Regions from separate parts of the Homo sapiens genome. Here regions 2 and 3 are each linked to region 1. Evidence: fine-mapped expression QTL. A gene starts in region 1. Each other region holds a variant in brackets. All regions are shown on one strand. Distances are between the middles of the regions. Region 1 holds the start of ZNF891 (zinc finger protein 891). Region 2 overlaps ZNF140 (zinc finger protein 140). Region 3 overlaps ZNF10 (zinc finger protein 10).

The links. PIP is the estimated chance that this variant, and not a neighbour inherited with it, causes the effect.
Region 2: its variant is the best candidate, but not a certain one, in a credible set for the expression of ZNF891 in sun-exposed skin (GTEx, PIP 0.90).
Region 3: its variant is the best candidate, but not a certain one, in a credible set for the expression of ZNF891 in whole blood (TOPMed, PIP 0.61).

What each region holds. Positions count from the first base shown.
Region 1 is chr12:133,128,502-133,132,747 of GRCh38, reverse strand. It overlaps ZNF891 (zinc finger protein 891), which reads left to right and starts at 2,474. Exons shown (of 2, transcript NM_001277291.2): 1 at 2,474-2,521. It overlaps ZNF10 (zinc finger protein 10), which reads right to left and starts at 2,121. Exons shown (of 5, transcript NM_015394.5): 1 at 1,994-2,121. RefSeq lists enhancers at 487-656, 1,739-2,018 and silencers at 2,069-2,308, 2,679-2,858.
Region 2 is chr12:133,105,398-133,109,643 of GRCh38, reverse strand. ZNF140 (zinc finger protein 140) reads right to left here. Exons shown (of 5, transcript NM_003440.4): 5 at 2,216-4,134. The coding sequence ends at 2,993. ZNF891 (zinc finger protein 891) reads left to right here. Exons shown (of 2, transcript NM_001277291.2): 2 at 1-4,246. Among named protein-coding and RNA genes, the nearest start is that of ZNF891, 23 kb to the left of the region's middle. The variant C/A (reference allele first, on the strand shown) is at 1,909.
Region 3 is chr12:133,152,052-133,156,297 of GRCh38, reverse strand. It overlaps ZNF10 (zinc finger protein 10), which reads right to left. Exons shown (of 5, transcript NM_015394.5): 5 at 1-795. Among named protein-coding and RNA genes, the nearest start is that of ZNF10, 24 kb to the right of the region's middle. RefSeq lists an enhancer at 1-1,089. The variant G/A (reference allele first, on the strand shown) is at 2,384.

The DNA.
Region 1 (4,246 bases):
ATAATGCTCTTGGATGTTCATTACGAGTCAAAGAGGCACATACACAGACAAAGGTGGCCTATATCATATCTTGTCCCAACCTTGCTTCATAGCCAGAAGAATTAAAAGCCCTGGCTGACATGAGACATGCTAGAAAGAGTACTGCTGATGAAAGTAAAAGAGTCTCTTGTAGGCACAACAGAGATATTAACAATAAGAAATTTCTTTTTCCTTAAAATACTTTTTTTTTGAGACGGAGTTTCGCTCTTGTTGCTCTTGTTAATTTAAGATGTGTATCTCAAATCTCTGCCCTTGTGACTGGCATATGTTAATTAGCTGGGCATGGTGGCTGGCGCCTGTAATCCCAGCTACTAGGGAGGTTGAGGCAGGAGAATTGCTTGAACCCAGGAGGCAGAGGTTGCAGTGAGCCAAGATCGAGCCATTGCACTCCAGCATGGGCAACAAGAACAAAACTCTATCTCAAAAAAAAAAAAAAAAATTCTCAGATTTTCTTGACAATTGAATATAATCTATAAACAGAACTGTTTTTATTCTTACTCATCCTTTATTCTTCTAGTAAGAATTGCCTAGTAAGGTTTTGAAGTTTTTCTCATATAGTTCACATATATTTCTAGCTAAAATTATTTTCTTCCTATTGTGAAGACTTTTTAAAAATAAAAGTATGTGCTAACTTGTTGAGGACGGCAATCAATCTATTAGCTTATATATTTCCTTTTCAGTCACTTTACTACAAATTATTGATAGTAATTGAATCTCTTCTCATTTTGGGGACTTAATTAGTTAATTAATTAACAAGGATAATTTTGTAATCTCTTTTCCAGAAGGTAAGCCTCATATCTACTTAAATATTGTCCTAAGTAGAATTTCCAGACAGTGCTTATATAAAATACTGATAAGCAGAAATTCTCATTTAATTTATGATGTGTATCTCAAATCTCTGCCCTTGTGACTAGCATATACTAAGAGCTAAAGAAATGCATGCTGAGAGAAGTAATCAAAAAACAAATGTAACTTTCAAAAAGAGGCAGGAGCGTGTGCAACTTACCATCCAAGAGGCTTTGGAAGATGGGGGACAATTTTAGTAAAACAGAAGAGATTAGTTATGTCACAAGAGAAAAGTTAGTGTGGAGGTAATTTTCAAAAGGGTAGGGAGGATTTGTGCTATCCAGTTCTCGGAGACCTAACTGCAGTCATTTCTAACCTAATAACACTTGTTGGCTGGCATTCTGGGTGACATCCTGCCTTCCCTTTTACTTTTTTTTTTTTAATTAACAGTATCTTTCTGCAATTAATGTATAGCTGGAATTGAAATTGTTCACCTTCTGCATACACTTTGGGTGGGATCTACGTACGAAATCTTGATGTTAACCTTATCTTTGACACTCATATTATGTGTTAGATGGCGTATATATATCTAGTGTCAAGGGAAAATAAAAATATAGTAATTAAACTTATGATCTGTCTCTGAAAATAAAAAAAATAGATTAACCACACAAACACGCCTTCAGTTAATCTATCTGATTAAAAAACAAAACAAAGATGAGGAAGCTAAGAGCTAGAGATGCAGGATTTGTTTTTAAAAGACCACACACGAATCGGCGTCACTATTTCAACAAATACTAGAAAGGCCATATGCAAAATTTTAAACATCTATCCCAGCTGGGGGGAAAAATGGAAGTTAGACTAGAAGAAACCTTATTTTGTATTACTGAAAATATCTGGTTCAAACTTACCACCACCGCCGCCCACTCTGCGTCAATCTCCAGGTGCAGCCGTTATTCTCCACAGAACAAGAACGTCCGCCGTGAACGCCGGGGCCGCGCGAGGGACAGAAAGTGACTGAGGCAAGGGGTGACGATCACCGTTAAATTTTTTCATTGACGAAATTACCGTCTACCTAGAAATACGAAGCTAATACACTGCTACATTACTAAAGGGCTCAACACGCGCCTGATGACGATGCAAACACAAAATTCAGCACTTTCGTATATACCTGCAATAAGCAACTAGAAGGTTCGATGGGAGAAAGCGATCCCGTCACAAAGGCAGCAGCAACAGCAAAACAGAGAACGCGACTCCATTCACCAGCGGAGCGCGAAGAGCGGCGTCAGAGGTGAGTCTGAGGCCGGCTCGGCACGGCGGCGCCACCTCCCCGTGGCCTGACGTCACGCACGCGCACGCGCCCCGCCCCCATTGGTCCTACGCCCGCCCCTGCTGCGAACGCACGCACACGCACCCACAACACACACCGTTACGCACGCGCCCCAGCCTGGCGTTCAGGCCACGCTCCGCCCCCAGCCCGTCAGCCGCGCGCCCCGGGACCCTAGAGCCGGCGATTCGTCGCCGGCGCCGCAGCCGCCACTCTGTGCCGGACCCTGCGGGCCTTCGGCCCAGAGCGCGTCCGTGACGCACAGACCAGGCCCCTCTGCGGGGCGGCGCAGGAGCTCCTGGGAAACGTAGTTCGGCCTCGCGTCCCCCTCGGGCGGGACCGCGGACGCCTGGAGGCAGGCACTGAGGACGGGTGAGCATGCGGGCCTGTGGCTCGTTCACCCGGGACAAGTCCCTCGTGGGATCAGCCTGGCCCGCTGAGTTCTCCTGCGTGCAGGGATCGCCTCACGGGAGTCTGAGCAGCAGGGAGCCTGCCCGGGAGGCGGCGGTGGGAGAGGCCCTTGAGGGAGGAGGGGCTACTTACCGGGTGCGAGTGGAGCGCGGGGAGCGAGTGGGGACCAGGGGCGCGCGGGGCGGAGGGGTCCCGGGCTGGCTGCGGGTGCCACGCAGGGAGCGCTGGGGGGCCGGGGATGCGCGTTTGCCTCCTTCTCTAAGCAACACGGGAGGGCTAAAGGGTGCACGCCTCTGTCCAGCAGCCTCTCTTGAATCTCTAAACCTAGTAATGAGTTGAATCACAGCCATCGTTTTTTTCACCTATTGCCTTATACTGTGGTTGAATGCGATATGGTTTTATTTCTTTAATACTCTGGTGTATTCAATTGGCTGTTTCCCTTTGACTTCACCTATGCTCACAAGATTGTGTTTTAATCTTTTTGTGTACTATCCTTGCCCGTTATACTAACAAGATTTTACAAGCTTCATGAATAATTTGGACAGCACAGTCTCTCTTCTATTCTGTAAAACAGGTCACCACCCCTCACCGCCCCCCGCCCGCCTCCAAAAGTTTGGTGCTATTTGGTCTTAAAATATTTAGTACGCATTTAACTTCTGACTCAATTTTTTTTTTTTTTTTTTTTGAGACAGAGTTTCGCTCTTTGTTGCCCAGGCTGGAGTGCAATGGCGCCATCTTGGCTCACAGCAACCTCCGCCTCCCGGGTTCAAGTGATTCTTCTGCCTCAGTCTTGTGAGTTGCCGGGATTACAGACATGAGCCACCACGCCCAGCTAATTCTGTATTTTTAGTGGAGATGGGGTTTCTCCATGTTGGTCAGGCTGGTCTGGAACTCCCGACCTCAGGTGATCAGCCTGCCTCGGCCTCCCAAAGCGCTGAGATTACAAGCGTGAGCCACCGCACCCGGCCCTGACTCAATTTTTTAAAAAGTCTCATTGATTAGGTTTTTTAGTTCGTATTCTGTTTTAGATACCTTTCCTAGATAATTGTTTTTAATCTAATTTTTCAAATTTATTGGCATAAAATTGCCCATGCTATTTTATCACTGTAAGTAATTTCTATGGTGATTTTTAAAATCACCACTTTTTAATATTTTACTGCTGTAATTGTTATTTTTTTCTTTTTTGAACCTAATTATCTAGGCCTTTTTTTCTTGATTACTCCTATAAGGTATATGTGTACATAGTCTTTTCAAAAATGTAGATTTGGTTTTGGTTTTTTTGTTGTTTTGTTTTGGTCTTTTTTGGGGAGGGGGGTCCTATTACAGTAAGTTTTGCTCTTAATTTTTAAATTTTTCTTTTACTTTGTCTCTGTTTTTCTACTTTTTTTTTTTTTTCGAGACAGAGTTTCACTCTGTCTCCAGGCTGGAGTGCAGTGGCGTGATCTCGGCTCACTGTAGCCTCTACCACCCGGATTCAAGCGATTCTCCTGCCTCAGGCCCCACCACGCCCGGCTAATCCAGCTAATTTTTGTTTTTGTTTGTTTGTTTGTTTTTGAGACAGAGTCTCTCTCTCTCGCCCAGGCGGGAATGCAATGGCAGGATCTCTGCTCACTGCAACTTCCACATCCCGGGTTCAAGCCATTCTCCTGCCTCAGCCTCTGGAATAGCTGGGATCACAGGCGCACA
Region 2 (4,246 bases), 23 kb after region 1:
TTTCTGAAGGATATTTTAGCTCAGTATGAAAAGAGGTTAGCAGTTTTTCACAGTGTACATATGAGCCCCCCGTCCCCCACTGCAATAGTTTTTCTTAAAGGGACCTGCCTCTCCCTTAGTTGAGAATATTTAAGTGAACTTGAGAATATTTAAGTGAACTGGCTTCAACCATATGTCAAGTAGTATGTTTGTGGGCTATCAATTTATTTCTAGGAACCCTATGATCATTTAGCCATTGCCACCTATATGGTTAAAATTCTCATTAACAGTGCATCCCTTGGACTCTTGTGCAGATTTTACCCAACCCCTCCCATGCCAAGATCCTATGATCTCTACTGAAATTGGGATCTTACTTTCATTATAGAAGTTCTGCATCATCTACAGTCTAGAGAGGGTGGGTACCACAGAGTTGTCCAAGGATGGTGGTAAACTCCTCACCAATGTATTTCTTAATACCCTGACGGGAATGTCTTTTGGCCTTTCTCTGGCTAAGGGAAAAAATGAACATAATAATTCATTGATAGTTACATCTCCCTCTAAAGCAGAGGTGTCCAATCTTTTGGCTTCCCTGGGCTACACCAGAAGAAGAATTTTCTTGAGCCACAATAACTGATAGCTATCATTAGTGTTCACGTATTTTATATGTGGCCCAAGACAATTCTTCCAATGTGGCCCAGGGATGCCAAAAGATTGGACACTGGATTCCATCCAGTATGACTTTTCAGATATCTAAGAAGATTTTGCTACACTTATTACAATGGTAGTTTTCCCACAGTGTAATTCTCTGATATAGGTTTGAAATATTGCAGAAATTCACTCTACATTCATTTATACAGTTGCTTTTTCTCCTACAAGAGTATTAAAATTTAAGTATTGCATTGTAATTGAAGGCATTCCCAAATCACTGTGTTTGTATCACTTTGGTTAATTGGAGATTGCTCCAAAGTAAACGTTCTCAATGTTGGCTGCACTCAACAAAAACTAGAGGGCAAAGATTTGATGTAGTCAGGGGTTGGCCAAGTTTTTCTGTAAAGGGCTAGATAGTAAATGTTTAACCTTTATGGCTGTATATTAAACTCTTCAGTTATAGAGGTAAGGAGCCATAGACTATGTAAATGAATACCTGGCCCATGGGCTGTAGCTTGATGACCTCTGATATAGTTCATGAGGTGCATCCCCACAGAGTAAACAGTAGGAAGGAAAGTGGATGTGGAGCAGATAATGGGAGAAATTGAGTATACTCTTAAATAAATAAATAATGAATTTTTCATATCCTAATTTTGCTGACAGGGTAACTTGATTTTTACCCTGATACAAACCATTCCTGCCTGAGAAAACCAAATCAGATACTAGATACCCATATGTAATAAGGCATGCTGCTTGAGGACACCAAATCAGATATTAAATACCCATATGTAATAAGGCATGCTGCTTGAGAAAATCAAATCAGATATTAGATACCCATACGTAGTAAGGCATGCTGCTTGTATTCGAGTCAGACTGTACACTATTGTAAGATAAATCAGCCTCTCTGAAACAACTCTTATGGAAACTTGAGAAGCTTCTAAATGTATGTACCAATATGGCATGCCAATGGCAGGTTTGAGGAAATACACTTCTGATAATGTATTTAGAACTCTAGTACATGTAAATAAGGTGTTTTTGGGCTAAAACTTTTATAAATTTCACCTCTTACAAAATTACTTATATTTATCTAATAACACCTCCTACAAATGTGCCCTCAATGCAGCCATTACATTAATGCTCACTAAATTCATTCCTATTCATATTCTCTACCTCTCTTTCTACAAAATAAAATTGCTTACCTTCCTGATTAAGGCAAACTAACCCTGATGGTGTGACCTTTGTCAGCTGGGCAGGTGGTAATGCCAGAACAGTTTTAAATAC[C/A]TGCTTACAAAAGAACGGTTTTCACCGTACATGGAACAAAACAGGAAGAATACCTTGGTAATTTTCTGTGATGTATCTTATATTTGTTTCACACTGAATAACAAATGTCTATAGTCAGATTCAAGGATAACTGTCAGCATTACCTTAAATCCAAACTCTGTCTGAAAGTTAAAATCATAAAACACCTAAAAACACTTTGTTATGTTTGTATGTTTCAACAAGAAAAACTACTGTTTATTTTTTATGTCAATATTGTAGTTACATTTTCAGAATCACATGCTGTGGGAAAAAATCAGCAAGCAGAAGGTTTATAATAAACCAAAAGATTTATTTATAACATTTTCTGAATTCACTTAAAAAACAAAAAGGAATCCCCCTTCCCTCAAAATAGAACCGTTTCCTACAGATTCCATCCAGTATGACTTTTCAGATATCTAAGGAGATTTTGCTACACTTATTACAATGGTAGTTTTCCCACAGTGTAATTCTCTGATATAGGTTTGAAATATTGCAGAAAGTCACTCTACATTCATTTATACAGTTGCTTTTTCTCCTACAAGAGTATTAAAATGTAAGTATTGCATTGTAAATGAAGGCATTCCCAAATCACTGTGTTTGTATCACTTTGCTTAAATATGAATTTTCTGATCTCCAAAGTGCATCATCTTTGTAAAGCTCATCCCTTGTCCATGCTTTCTGTCCTGGTTGACAGATGCGGAATGAGGGCTAATCTCTGGCTTTCTCCAATCTATTGGATATGTATTCTTTCCTGGTAGGAATTTACACACGTAAAGTAAGGGACTCCTACCAAATGAAGTCTTCTCAACATTACCAGATGGAAGAATCTTCTCAACAATATTGATTTCACCTTGTTATTGCAAAAAAATAAAAGAGTGGTTATTAATGGCTTTTCCACATATTCCTGGGTTTTTTTTTCTCCAGGGTGGTGAATAAAGTGTGGGCCATATTACTTCACAGTCATCACTTTCACATAAGGCTTCTTTCCAAGAGTTCTCTGAAGTAAGGCATTATACTTCTTTTTAAAAAATTCCATACATTCATAGTTTTTCTTTGCAGTGTAAATTCACTGGTGTTCAGTAAGGAATGAGTGGTAATTAAATGAATTTTCATATTCATAGGGGTTGTCAAGAGTGTGTGTCCTCTGATGTTTAGCAAGGTTTGAGCTCCAGCTGAAGGATTTGTTGCATACCTTACATACATAGGGTTTCTCTCCAGTATGAGTTCTCTGATGTAGAATGAGGGAAAAGCTCCGGCTGAAGGCTTTATCACATTCAGCACACGCATAGGGTTTCTCTCCAGTGTGACTCTTCGTATGTTGAATAAGGGATGCATGCCAAGTGAAAACTTTACCACATTCATCACATTCATAGAGCTTTTCTCCAGCATGAATTCTCTGATGTTTAATAAGGAATGAGTGACAACGGAAAGCTTTCCTACATTCATTACATTCATACGGGGTTTTGGTTGTATGGATGCTCTGATGTCGAGTAAGGTGTGAGAAACGGCGAAATGCCTTCCCACATTCAATGCATTCATAAGGTTTCTCTCCAGTATGTGTAATCTGGTGGCGAATGAGTTCTGAGCCACTGCTAAATGCTTTACCACATTTCCTACATATATATTGTTTCTTTCCTATGTGAATTCTTTGATGTCGAGTGAGGTTGGAGGCACGGCTAAAGGCCTTTCCACACTCAGTACATTCATAAGGTTTCTCCCCAGTGTGCGTTCTCTGGTGTTCAATAAGAAATGAAAGGTAACTGAATGTTTTATTACAGTCCTTACACTCATGGGGTTTCTTTCCAGTATGTATCATTTGGTGTTTCACAAGGTTTGAAATCTGGCTAAAGGTTTTGCCACATTCCTTACATGCATATGGTTTCTCTCCAGTATGAGTCCTCTGGTGTAACACCAGGGAAAAGCGTCGACCAAAAGTTTTTCCACATTCATGGCATCCATAGGGCCTCTCCACAGTACTGATATTCATATGTTGAGCCAGGGCTTCTTGATGAGAGACTGTTACTTTCCTAATACATCCCTGATTTTCTTGCAGCATCTCAGTATGATCCTTGCATTTCCAGCCTCCTTTAAAACTGGAATACACAGGGCCTTGACTTAGAATTCTTTCCATGATCAAATACTGGGATGAGTCATCATAAATGACATTTTTTGGTGAAAAGTCTTTGATCTCACCACTTGACTCTGAAACTGAAAGATACCAAAAAAAAAGTGAATGTTTCTTTTTCCTGTATTGAATAAAATAAGGCCATTTCTCCCTTCTTTAGCAACAGAATGAAGTTTCAAAAAATCTTATCAATAG
Region 3 (4,246 bases), 24 kb before region 1:
ATGTGTACAGTTTGTCTCCTGTATGAGTTCTCTGATGAGTAACAAGGTGAGAGAACCAGCTGAAGGATTTTCCACATTCTTTACATTCATAGGGTTCCTCACCAGTATGGGTCTTTTGATGTCCAATGAGGTGAGAACTCCGGCTGAAAGACTTTCCACATTCTTTACACTCATAGGGTTTTTCTCCAGTATGAATAAGCTGATGCCTAGTAAGATTAGAGCGCCAGCTGAAGAATTTTCCACATTCCTTACATTCATAGGGTTTCTCTCTATGTATGCCCTTTGATATACCAAGAGATGAACCATGAGTAAGAGAGTTGTCATTATCAGGGCATTTGTAGGATTTATCACCTGTGTGAGTTCTTGCAAACTGAATAAGGTGAATGTTTTGACAGAAAGTTTGACCACATTCATTACTGTTACTTGCACAACTGTCCTGATGACCATTAAGAACTAAATCATGTTTTAAACTTTTAGTATGTGAGTCACGTTTATGGAAATACTCTCTCAGTACTAGCTGAGCAGGAAGAAGACAGTTTCCCCCATATTTACCACTTTCAGAGACTCTCTCCTGAGTAAGTACTTTCTTTTGGGTGAATGCCACTTGCCTCAAATGTCTCTCTGGGTTTTCCTGATACTTGTCTAACTGGTCTCTACATTTCCAGACTTCTTCTAATGACAAATACCAGAGATCATTCCTTGCCATTCCTTCCATTTTAATGTCACAGGATTGCTTATCTTTAAAAATGCTCCTGCTGGAAACTGATGATTTGATTTCAAATGCAGTCTCTGAATCTGAAAGAAATGAAAAATGTTTGTGTAACTAAACAGAGTATTAAGGTGAGAATGCTAGGATGTATGTGGAGACAAAGTATGCAAGATGTACACAGTTGCTTTCAAATATGGCTTTATAACTTTGATAGAGAATGAGAAAAGGAAGAATGGAGCGGTAAACAATAAATGCATTGTGGTATACAGTACTCACAAAGGGCAAAAGGAGTAAGGAGAAGCCACAGGACACAGCATGACACATGGGATCAGGGTATCAATGGTGAGGGTAGAAATAAGGGAAATTCCATAAAAAGGACTGCACTCTCATTTTCTAATCCAGATATTAACAGTCTAAGTTCCTCACCTGTCTACTTGTTGTCAGGACTTTCCCCTGACACACATTCTTCACATTACTATCAATTTAGTATTCTCTCTCTTTTTTTTTTTTTTGAGACAGTTTCGCTCTTGTTGTCCAGGCTGGAGTGCAATGACACAATCTTGGCTCAATGCAACCTCCGCCTCCCAGGTTCAAATGATTCTCCTGCCTCAGCCTCCCAAGTAGCTGGGATTACAGGCACCTGCCACCATGCCTGGTTAATTTTTAATATTTTTAGCAGAGACAGGGTTTCACTATGTTGGCCAGGCTGGTCTTGAACTCCTGACTTCAGGTGATCCACCCGCCTTAGCCTCCCAAAGTGCTGGGATTATAGGCGTGAGCCAGTGCGTCCGGCCCAATTTAGTATTCTTAAACCATGAATGCAGCCATACGTCAGGCAATGCTTTCTATCCAAATCACAGAAGCACTATAGAATAACACCCAGATGAGTGACACAACAGACCTCTCAGAGCAGCTACATGACAAGGTGGAAGAGTAACTGCACAAAAGTTACCAAGATGCAAGTTCTAAGTTTTATATTACGACTAGTGGTGAATTTAGACGAGTTGCTAAACTTTGAAGAATTCATTTTGCTTATCTGTAATCTAAGGATGACAGTATTTGTTATTTAAGATTATTATATTATATAAAGCATGAGCCTATTACAGTCTCTGGCACATTTATGGTCAAAGCAATAAGATTTACAATAATCATCATCATTCTTCTCATTTTTTTGATTTCTTCGCTCTGAAACATAAGGACTTAACAACTGATAGGACTACTACCACAAGATGTGAACTTAGAATCTGAAGCCTGACCCATACGCTCTTAGAATTTCTGCCATCTGCTACCTGTGTATATTACTGCAAATTATTTCTCTTGAATAAGAGCTTTATCTGTTTCTCAATGTCTTTCAGGTAAAACATATAATCCCAAACCTAAAAAATACACTGATGATACCACTTCATCTTACATAAGTGGGGTGACATTCCACTCTTACCTGGTATTATGGGTTAAACTGTATCCCCCCCGCCGACAAAAAGGTATGTTGAAGTTTTAATCCTCAGTATCTCAGAATATGACCATATTTGGAAATACAGTCTTTCCAGATGTAATTAGTTATGATGAGGTAGTACCAGAAATAGGATGGGCCCCTAATCCAGTATGAGGGTGGTCCTCCATAAAAAAGACACAGACACAGGGGAAGAGACCATGTGAACATGGAGACCAAGACTG[G/A]AATGATATATCCACAAGCCAAGGAACACCTGGGGCCAGCAGAGCCTGGAAGAGATAAGGAAAGACCCTCTCCTAGAAGCGTAGCAGAGCCCCACTGACATCTTCATTTTAGACTTAACAGCCTCCAGCTGTGACATGATACATTTTGGTTGTTTTGAGCCACCTAACTGCTGGTTCTTTGTTACCGCAGCCCCAGGAAACTAATACACCTGGTAAATGATCCCTGTGCCAGGCCTGGTCCCTAAATGACTTCCTTATACAATCCCACCCCGACCAGTCCTGTCCCTTACCACTTAGTTAGTTCCTAGTTTCTTCCCCATCCTGATGATTTTTAATAGGAAATACACCACCCTTTCCTCCCTTTCCCCAACCCAGAACATCAGAAAATCTTATGGAGAAGTTTTTCAACCTACAAATGCCAACTGGAAGATTCTATGAAGAATATCTATGATAAGGGGGGTGCTGAGCACTTATGGAGGACAATTCTGAGTGGAGAGTTTGGTCATAAGAATGAGGTGTTTTATTAATATCCTAAAATCTTCCACATATTATGTAATACAACCATGCCAGTAAGTTATTGTCGAAGTCTGTTGGACCCATCAATCAACTAATCATCTGATTTTTAAAAATCATCATTCATTATATTTTTTGATTTGATAATGAATTTAACAGCCTTGTAGATTCTGTAAAACTCCATGCCTTTAAGCCCATGAAGTCTGAGTATTTCTTTTGACAATAAATTCTCAATAAAAATATAAACTGCTGGGTCCAGTTAATAATTGTTATTTTTGGATACTTGTCAACAGACATTCAGGAAAGCTTACTAGATGAACAAAATAGAAAAGAAAGAAAGAAGGTAAGTAATAAAAAGAAAATATAACAATATTTCCTCCCATGGTCCCAAAGAAAGACTTGCTTTGAGATACCATTTTGATACAATCACCTACAAGGCAAATACTAAAAAGTAAAAAAGAGCTTATGATAATATTTCAAAGTAGAGATTTAAACTAAGTGGAAGTTCAGAAGAGGAAGAGGCCAATACTTAATGAGGAATCATAAAAGCCTTCATGGGAAAGAACTTGAGGCTAAATTACAGGACAAGTAAGACTCAGATTTAATTTACATCACACTCAAAGTCTGAGATGCAGGGAAATGCCTATAAATAAATTTTTAAAACATTAAATACAAAACTAGATAGAGGCTGGGCATGGTGGCTCACGCCTGTAATCCCAGCACTTTGGAAGGCCGAGGTGGGCGGATCACTTGAGGTCAGGAGTTCGAGACCAGCCTAGCCAACATGGTAAAACCCTATCTCTCCTAAAAATACAAAAATTAGCTGGGCGTGGTGGTGCATGCCTGTAATTCCTGGTTCTTTGGGAGGCTAAGGCGGAAGAATCGCTTAAACCTGGGAGGCGGAGGTTGCAGTGAGCCTAGATCGCGCCACTACACTCCAGCCTGGGAGACTGAGTGAAACTCCATCTCGAAAAGAAAAAAAGATCTAAAGTACAGTAGGAAAAACTGGTGTTTCTGTGAGCAGCCATTCTGGAAAGGAAGGAGAGTTGAGGCAACAGGAATTATGAGCTCTCTGCAGCAGTTTTCTACCTGGCAGAAAACAAACTCTCAGAAAAGAAGGTGATAAGAGTCCCACTCCAGAGCTTGCACAGAGAACTGAGTTGTGGGAAGGGGTCACATGAAAGAACAAAGAGAGGCAAAAATGCAAGAAGTGATTCTATGACAAACGAAAGCACAAGATGCTAGAGTGAGTGGTAACAATTAGGAGAGCGACACGTGCAAGCGCTGAAACCAAGCACGTCAACAGACAGAGAAACCTTTGCCTCTGAATGCAAATGGAATGTAAAGACT